Regions from separate parts of the Homo sapiens genome. Here regions 1 and 3 are each reported to be linked to region 2. Evidence: microRNA targets listed by miRTarBase, many of them from high-throughput screens and not tested one by one. Region 2 holds a microRNA gene; each other region holds the end of a gene's coding sequence.

Region 1 (3,000 bases), not on the chromosome of region 2:
GGAAAACTATTGAGCTCACTCTTCTCATGATCACTGTTTGCTGTGTGTCCTGAGGGCACTAACTCACAGTGTCCTTTTACTCCCTCATCAATGTGTCACCTGGCCAATTCACTGAGCTCACTTTCTCTCTCTCTCTGTCTCTCTCTCTCACTCTCTGTCTTTCTCTTTCATTGTTTTCTACTTGGCCCTGTTCTATCCCAACATAAAGGCAATAATTTTTTTACCTCATTAATGGAACTATCCTTTTCCTTTTTTGACCACTTCCTTATGTTACCCCTGAAATCTAGTTGGGGCTCTGTGGTGTCTGATTTTCCCTGGCTGCTTCTTTAGTTTTGTCTCCTTTTCCAGGCTCAACGAGGTGCTGATGGAAGCAGAAGAGCCTGAAGTCTTGCAGGACTCACTGGATAGATGTTATTCGACTACTTCAACTTACTTTCAACTACATGCCTCATTCCAGCAGTATAGAAGTGCCTTTTACTCATTTGAGGAACAGGACGTCAGCTTGGCCCTTGACGTGGACAATAGGTTTTTTACTTTGACAGTGATAAGGCACCACCTGGCCTTCCAGATGGGAGTCATATTCCCACACTAAGCAGCCCTTACTAAGCTGAGAGATGTCATTGCTGCAGGCAGGACGTATAGGCACATGTAGGTTTGAATGAAACTGTAGTTCCCTTTGGAAGCCCAGTCATAGGATGGGAAAGTGGGCATGGCTCTATTCCTATTCTCAGACCATGCCAGTGGCCACCTGTGCTCAGTCTGAAGACGTTGGACCCAAGTTAGGTGTGACACGTTCACACGACTATGTAGCACATGCCGGGAGTGATCTGCCAGACATTCTAATTTGAACCAGATATCTCTGGGTAGCTACAAAGTTCCTCAGGGGTTTCATTTTGCAGGCATGTCTCTGAGCTTCTATACCTGCTCAAGGTCAGTGTCATCTTTGTGTTTAGCTCATCCAAAGGTGTTACCCTGGTTTCATTGAACCTAACCCCATTCTTTGTATCTTCAGTGTTGGTTTGTTTTAGCTGATCCATCTGTAACACAGGAGGGATCCTTGGCTGAGGATTGTATTTCAGAACCACTGACTGCTCTTGACAGTTGTTAACCCACTAGGCTCCTTTGAGTAGAGAAGCCATAGTCCTTCAGCCTCCAATTGATATCAATACTTAGGAAGACCACAGCTAGACGGACAAACAGCATTGGGAGGCCTTAGTCCTGCTCCTTTCAATTCCATCCTGTAAAGAACAGGAGTCAGGAGCCGCTGGCAAGAGACAGCATGTCACCTGGGACTCTGCCAGTGCAGAATATGAACAATGCCATGTTCTTGCAGAAAATGCTTAGCCTGAGTTTCATAGGAGGTAATCACCAGACAACTGCAGAATGTAGAACACTGAGCAGGACAACTGACCTGTCTCCTTCACACAGTCCACGTCACCACGAATCACACAACAAAAAGGAGGAGAGATATTTTGGGTTCAGAAGAAGTAAATGATAATGTAGCTACATTTCTTTAGTTATTTTGAACCCCAAATATTTCCTCATCTTTTTGTTGTTGTCATTGATTTTGGTGACATGGACTTGTTTGTAGAGGACAGGTCAGCTGTCTGGCTCAATGGTCTACATTCTGAAGTTGTCTGAAAATGTCTTCATGATTAAATTCAGCCTAAACGTTTCATCAAGAACACTACAGAGTCGATACTGTGAGTTTCCAACCTCAGCCCATCTGTGGGCAGAGAAGGTCTAGTTTGTCCATCAGCATTATCATGATATCAGGACTGGTTACTTGGTTAAGGAGGGGTCTAGGAGATCTGTCCCTTTTAGAGACACCTTACTTATGATGAAGTATTTGGGAGAGTGGTTTTTCAAAGTAGAAATGTCCTGTATTCCAGTGATCATCCTCTAAACGTTTTATCATTTATTAATCATCCCTGCCTGTGTCTATTATTATATTCATATCTCTACGCTGGAAATTTGCTGCCTCAATGTTTACTGTGCCTTTGTTTTTGCTAGTGTGTGTTGTTGAAAAAAAAACATTCTCTGCCTGAGTTTTAATTTTTGTCCAAAGTTATTTTAATCTATACAATTAAAAACTTTTGCCTATCACTCTGGACTGTTGGATTGTTTTTTACATTCAGCGTTATAATCTTTTGTTATGCTGATTGGTTTTGGTGGGTACTGATGCGAATTAATAAAAACATTTTCATTTCCCTGTTTATTTTCTAATCTCTTCCACCTTGTAGGCTATGTTTACCATATGTAGCAGAATGCATGTACTCCATTTCTTGGTTCTAGATATTTATATTCTTTGTGAGAGTGTGTGTGTGTGTGTCTGCGTGTGCCTCTGGCATTTAGGAAGGGTTGTGTAGCTCATGTTTGATATTGACTAAAAATGTTTCATAGTTTTCCCCCCTTTGAACTAGACACACTTCTAATATTTGGTTTATACGTTTTAAATTATGACTTTCAACATCACATATTTCCATATGACAGTCAATTACATGATGTGTTTTCTTTTTCCTACCTCCTTTACCTGCCACTTCTCATAATCGTATTTGAACCTAAACATACACCAGTGACATTCTGTGGTTGTCATCTTGCCCACACCTTGGTTTTTGGTTTAGATCCACAATTAAATATATTAATGCTCATGAGCTGTTCAAAAGTGAATGTCACAGTCATCACTTGCTGAGTGGTACTCATCCTAACAGAGTCCTCATGAGGGAATCAGGTCTCGCTGAGTTTAGCATGTTTAATAATCTTCCTCACGGTCTTGATACATGGATCGCATTACTGGATATAAGGTGTTTGCCCAAAATGATTTTTCTTGTGTTTTTAGGAGCTATTGTCTTCCTTGCGGGACATACATGGTGTATGTTCTCGTTGTGGGATTCTATTTTGTTCTACCAGGACCTATAATTTCTGCCAGTTACTTCATTTGTTCTCTTCACCATGAGTCTCCAGCGGATGCTTCCTTTGTCCATGCCTCCCCATCTCCCA
Region 2 (3,244 bases):
TGCTGTATTCCCAGTACTGATGCAACGCTGGCACATACGAGGTGTTCAGTAAATGGTGGCGGATGAGTGAAACCTTTTCCTCGGCTCCACAATACCCTTAGGATCCATCCTCACCTCTCACCCAGGCCCACAGGCCAGTGCAGCACAGCCCCTGCCAACCCCTGCAGGCACTTCTGCTGCTCCCCCTGCCCAGGCCCAGCCTTCCTGCCACTCCCAGAGCTGTGAGCTGTGGTGGGCTGGGAACCAGGGGCAGTGGCATGCACCTACGGTCCCAGCTACTCAGGAGACTGAGGCAGGAGGATCACTTGAGCCCAGGAGTTCAAGACTAGCCTGAGCAACATAGCGAGACTCCCGTTTCCACAAAAAATTTAAAAATTAGCTAGGCATGGTGGCATGCACCTGTAGTCCCAGCTACTCAAGAGGATGAGGTGGAAGGATCACTAAAGCCTAGGAGGTCAAGCCTGCAGTGAGCTGTGATCACACCACTGCACTCCAGCCTGGGTGACAGAGGGAGGCCCTGTCTCAAAAGAAAAAAAAAAACAAGCACAGAGCCTGACCTCTGAAAAGACTCCAGTGTGTCTACCTTGGAGGCGCTCAGGGCTGCAAAGCCACTGCGTGGAAGAGGAGTGGGCCCGGGAGCTGCCCTTGTCAGTTCTGACTTGATTGCATGTCTCCCCCGACCTCTGTTTCTGCATCTGTAAAACTGAGATGCTAATTTCAGCCCTGATCTCCTCCTAGTGCTCTCTGACACGGTTCTGTGAACTGGCAAAGGCCTTCAAAGTCCCGGCAGAAATACTAAGAATTACAATTGCTAAGACAGACCAACAGCTCACCATGTGTCGGGCACTGTTCTTAGTGAGGAGACATTTCCGGTAGGCTTATTGTATGCCAGAACAGTTATGAATGCTTCCCACAAATTAATCCACTCAGCCTTCACAATAATCCTATCAGGTGGGAATTATCATCATCCCCATGGCACCGATGATGAAATGAGCTCACAAGGGTTGGGGAGCCTGCTCAAGGTCACACAGCCATGGAGTGGCACGGCTGGATTTGAACCCTGTGCTCTCACTCGCTTCCATACACCTCTTTACAGAGGCTGGAAACCAGAACATTGAAGTTCTGGATCCTAGCTGGGCCAGGCTGGGGAGCTGGATCCCGGAATGCTCGAGGGGACCAAAAGTAGGGGGTGGGGGAGGCTGGATGCCTCCGTTCCATAACATAATCATGACTGCCAACCAAGACTTACACAGTACCAGGCACCATTCTAGGAGCTTCTCGTGGATTAATTCATTTAATCCTCACAACAGCCCAAGGTGGACGTCCTTCTGAGACCACTGTATGGGAGTGAACAGTGTGGTCCAAGGTCGCAGAGCTAGAACCGACTTCACCGTCCTGCTGCTAGCTAACGCAGGTCCCTGGTAGCTGTGTCACCCCCTGCATGGCTCTCTTGCTGTCTTCTTCTCCCAGCACACACCTGCCCAGGGTTAAAGGATGCCTTGCCTCCACTCTGAGGAGGGACCAAGAAATGCTGGACTGGCTGTAGGCAGAGATGCTCAGGGCAGCCTGAGGCTCAGGGGTAAGAGGAAGGAAAGACATAGGACAGTCACCTCTATAGGTAGAGGACAGAGGACAGAGGTGACTCTATCCTATGTCTTTCCTTCCTTTCACCCAGCCTGGAACCTGGTGAGCAAGGAATGCATGGCACTAGGGGCTCAGTGACCTGGGTTCAAATCCTACCCTGGCACCCATAGGGTCTGATAAGATGCGGTGGAAGGCAATTCTTCCTCTGAACTTCAATTTCGGACTCTGCAAAAAAGGACACAAATACCATATAAAGCCCAAAGCACAGGGCTGGGCAGAGTATATGCTCACAGACAAAAGCCACTCCTCCAGTTTCTCCTTGACAAGACGATCTGAGGCCAAGGTTGGCCAAGGGCTCACATCACACCTCTCCCACTTCAGCTATGAGACCTCTGGGAAATCTTTGCACTTCACAGTGAGTGAAATGATTCCTCATCTGTAAAATGGTATCACACTTCTAACTAGCTCGTAGCTCTCCATAAAATAGGCCTAACCACAGGTATGTTTTGAGACTTAAGTGAGATCACATGTACAAAAGCCCTGTCACACGCCTGGCATGGGGTGAATGCTATAAACACTGGGCATCCACTAGCTCTGGAAATGATCTGCCTCTCTGAGATGCTGTTTTCTCATCTAAAAGGGAGAGCATAACAACAGCGCCTACCGCTCTAGAATTCAAGTATTCAGCAAGTTTATCTATATGAAGCATTCCAAACAGTGTGTGGCCCACAGAATGCACTCAGTTACTGTCAGCCATCAATTTCATGATTACTGTTTTCACTGCCACTGTTAGCCCCATCAGGCAAACCCTCTAAAAGCTGGCAGGAGAGGACCAGAGGAACAAACCCCTAGTGGAGAAAGATTCTACAGAGTCGCCGCTGCCTCACAGACTGTGGGACCTTTCTCTCCAGGAACCACGAGCCACGGAAGCCAGTCAGCTTGGAAGTCACTGCTGCGGACTAGGGGCAACCATCTGCCCCCTCTGACCACATCACCAGCCCAGGTCTGCTGGGTCAATCAGGGACTGCAGCCAGTCCTCTGGGAACTCCAGACCCAGAGCAAAGGCTACAGGGCAAGCCAAGGTCATGATCTGGCCTAGGGAGCAGGGACACTGGCCACAGACCTCTGGGGCTGGCTGCTCCCAGCACCAGCCCACAGACCACAATAAGACACCAGATCCATGGGGGATCTGACTGTCCCAAGCCCTTCAGAGCAGCCTTCCTCCCTGGGCCAGGCTGGGCCAGGGGCACCCCCACTCCAAGTCCCCTTGGCCTATGCAAAGAGGAACAGCTGGGAAAACAGCTCCCGGCCTCACTGCAAGGCCAACTGTTACTGCCTTGGTGGGGAGTGTAAACATGATGTGTGACCGAGCTGGTAACTGGGAGACACAAACAGCTTCGTGGCCAGCGACAGAGGAGCATGTAGTGGTCTGCGTTGGTTCCTGGACCCTTCACATCCACTGCCAACCAAGTTCAGCCCACGAGTGAACTCCTGCTGCTTCTCTGGGAAGGTAGGAGTGGATGAAGTTGAAAAGCAGCCCATTGGAGGCTCTAGTTACTCCAGCCCAGGCGTCTTGCTGAGCCCCAAGAGGTCTCCAAATGAGAGGAAGAGGTCCTCACAATCCCAAGATCAAGATGCCCCCAGAGAGCTTCCCTGGGGG
Region 3 (3,000 bases), not on the chromosome of region 2:
GACAAAGTCATAAAAATCACATCATGAATAGCATTTCTAATTTGTGCCCAACCACACACAAACACTAACGTATAATTATAGTTGAGATCATTCATATCAGACAACGGTCACACCAAGCTGGTCTTTCTTCACCACTAACTTTCAGAATAAAGCATACACATATTTTCCTTCTCCTGAAGACCACTAAAGCATATCCTTTGAGAGCACCTATAGTGTTGCATAAGTACTTTTTGCTTTTAAGATCAAAATAATCAAAATAATCAAAATACAGGAGTCAGTTTTGCAAAAATAAGTTATAGTTCCAATTGCTCAGTGTTTAAAAGCAAAAAAGCAAGCAAACAAAAAACCCAAACAACAAAAAACCTTTTCCATTGAGTAAGAAAAATCTATGGGCTCTGGGAGGAAGTTGGAGTCCTTAGTGGCTCAGGCTCAGGGTTATCAAGAATTGTCCTCTGGCTTGAGGGACAGTTTAGTCCTCTTAAAGAGTAGCACAGGACTTGGCTCCAACAAATCTCTGTAAACTGAAGTCTGCTACACCCAGGCCCCGATGGCCCTTGGTTTTGTTCCTTCATCATGAGCCTTCTTCTCAGGTCACCCATTCATACCGCTTAAAGATCTCACACAAATAGCAATTGGTGATGTCTTCAACAATAACCTCATCTTGTGGGCCAACAGAGAAATCATTCACAGCGTTCCTTGAAGGTATTGACATGATGCAAATATCTTTATTCGTACAAATAACATTCAAGCATATCATTCAGTGTTGCAATAAGTTAAGATAAGCTCCTTTCAGAGATGCTGGGAAAGGCTGGCTTTTGCCTCCAAAACATTGCTCCCTAATTTTGGCTCCTTCTATACATTTCCACTAAAAGCCTTGCCCGGAGCAAGAAGGAAGCTTACCCTGCCCACCCCTCATTGCCCCTGGCTCCTGTTCCCCTTTCCAATGCTAGCAGTAGGGCAAGAGGGAGGTTTATTTTCAACGTGAAACTTAACTGTATATTTAATTCCTTCTACCAAAGCCTGCATTAAGGCTAATGCATTACAAAACATACATACCCGCAAACTGTTGAGATAGTGAGCATTGTTTTAAGCTATTCATCTCTTTGTCAAAAAAATATACATAGCCTGAAACCATCACTAAAGTAGCAGATTTTACTTTTTTTAATTTGAATTTTCCAAATTCTGTTGGTCTTACCCTTCAAGTTTATTTGTGCCACATGTACATAAACTAACCTACTTTCTCAATATTTTGCAATTTGTGAAAAAATAAAGCCTGTTGCAGGCATGAACAAAGTGGCAGGGAGGTTCCAGCCTGAGAGTCTGGAATCCTTTTGTGGTGAAGACTCCTAAACTGTCAGCAGGAATCACACTCCTTTTCTTCCTTTTAATAACAGACCCAATTCCCTCTCTACCTCTCTGTATTCACTGGCTACATGGCTGCCTAGTTAGGGACTATCTTTAGCTAGCTGTGTCCACATGACTCAGTTTTGGCCAATACAATGTAAGTGGAAGTTAAAGTGATGCGTATAACTGAAAAGGCTTGCCCTGGACTTCTTCGTCATCCTCTTCCTCATCTGGCTGGGGGGAATCAGTACAAGGACAGAGCCAACTGACCCACCTGGAAACTCTTTACCTTGTGGATCTGCTCACCGTTGAGCTGAATTTGAGAAAAACAAACTTCTACCCCTTGTTTTAGACACCAGGGTTTTGTATCTTTTCCTTACAGCAGCTTGCTCTCTACTTTAACCAGTACAGCAAGAAATGTATTCTCTCCTAACAAACCCGACCAAGAATCTTCCCCTACCCACTAAATGACTTTGATTTATTAAGACAACTTAAAAGCCAAATTAATGGAATTAAGTAACATTTATTTTACATAAAACAATTTCCAGAGAATACATTTAAAAACCATCTAGATACTGATTTTTTAGCATTACAAAAAATTGAGAGGCACAATTGAAGTATTCAAATAAATTGTGAGGGGTGGAGGTGGGGACTATGCTCACTATCTATGTTGTTCCTTAGTCACTTAAAGGCTCTGCGTGCAAGAGTCTTTACATGAGGCAGTAGTGCACTTTCATTTAGTAGGAATAAATCACATAAAATATATACTTTTATACAGAAAGTGTTATTGTGTTGTCATTTTCAATTACTTATAAAAACTTCATTTGAATTGCACAAAAGTTCTCTTTAAAATTGATAACTCCCAGAAGACAGGGCTTAGAACTGTCTAAATAATTCATTACAAATAATTAGGTTTCCATTTATCCATAGATTAAAAAAACTATGAAGAATTACGTTATTCAAGTGGGACATTTAAAATTTTTTTCATAGGAAAATAGGTTTACATGTTTGTCCCTAGTCAGCTAAATTTCCCACCCCCCAACTTTAAAACAGATCACAGGATGTCCAAAGTTTTAAATCAGAGTACCTATATCACAGTACAGTGTGGATATGTTTCCATTAATTCATTTTATGTCTCATTCTATTATAGTATCAAATTAGCAAAAAGGCACCTGGGTACATTCTTCAGAACAGTTTTGGTCGTTTTAAAAAAATCACACATTTATAAGCAGTGATTTCAATCATGTTTAAAAACAAAAATATTAAACAAATTCATTTCCTAATCCAGATGATACAGAATCCAAGAAATTTCTGTAGGCACTTCACTTTCCATAGAACTTCTTGTTCAGCAGGTATATGAGAAGGTTTACATTCACTTTAACCTTATCAAACATTTTCATTACAGCTACTCCTTCATATTGCATCTGAAGTAAATCCTGAAATTGTAAAAAGCATCATTAAATCTCAACTTTGACATTTTGTGCATTTAAAAAACATATTAGAAGAATTTGTTGACAAAAGTCAGATTCAATTGACCTAATCACCTGGGTGGGGTCTAACTATGTTGCCCAGGTTGGTCTCAAACTCCTGGCTTAAGCTATCTTCCCACCTCAGCCTCCCGAGTAGCCAGGACTACAGGCGCATGCCATGGCACCA

The links. Region 2 holds the annotated microRNA hsa-miR-641 (AAAGACAUAGGAUAGAGUCACCUC, at 1,636-1,659, opposite strand). A microRNA usually pairs through its seed, bases 2 to 8, with sites in the 3' UTR of a target mRNA and lowers its output. Matches are read on the target gene's strand: a 7mer-m8 pairs with bases 2 to 8, a 7mer-A1 pairs with bases 2 to 7 and ends in A, and an 8mer does both.
Region 1: the mRNA of NBPF3 is a reported target of hsa-miR-641. Seed matches in the 3' UTR shown: 7mer-m8 at 1,644-1,650.
Region 3: the mRNA of IQGAP2 is a reported target of hsa-miR-641. The part of its 3' UTR that is shown has no 7-base or 8-base seed match.

Annotation. Positions count from the first base shown.
Region 1 is chr1:21,482,795-21,485,794 of GRCh38, forward strand. NBPF3 (NBPF member 3) reads left to right here. Exons shown (of 15, transcript NM_032264.6): 15 at 349-2,106. The coding sequence ends at 592. Among named protein-coding and RNA genes, the nearest start is that of ALPL, 25 kb to the right of the region's middle.
Region 2 is chr19:40,280,968-40,284,211 of GRCh38, forward strand. MIR641 (microRNA 641) reads right to left here and starts at 1,674; the gene lies at 1,576-1,674. All of the region lies in intron 1 of AKT2 (AKT serine/threonine kinase 2), which reads right to left.
Region 3 is chr5:76,706,980-76,709,979 of GRCh38, reverse strand. IQGAP2 (IQ motif containing GTPase activating protein 2) reads right to left here. Exons shown (of 36, transcript NM_006633.5): 36 at 1,848-2,780. The coding sequence ends at 2,667. Among named protein-coding and RNA genes, the nearest start is that of NCRUPAR, 3.9 kb to the left of the region's middle.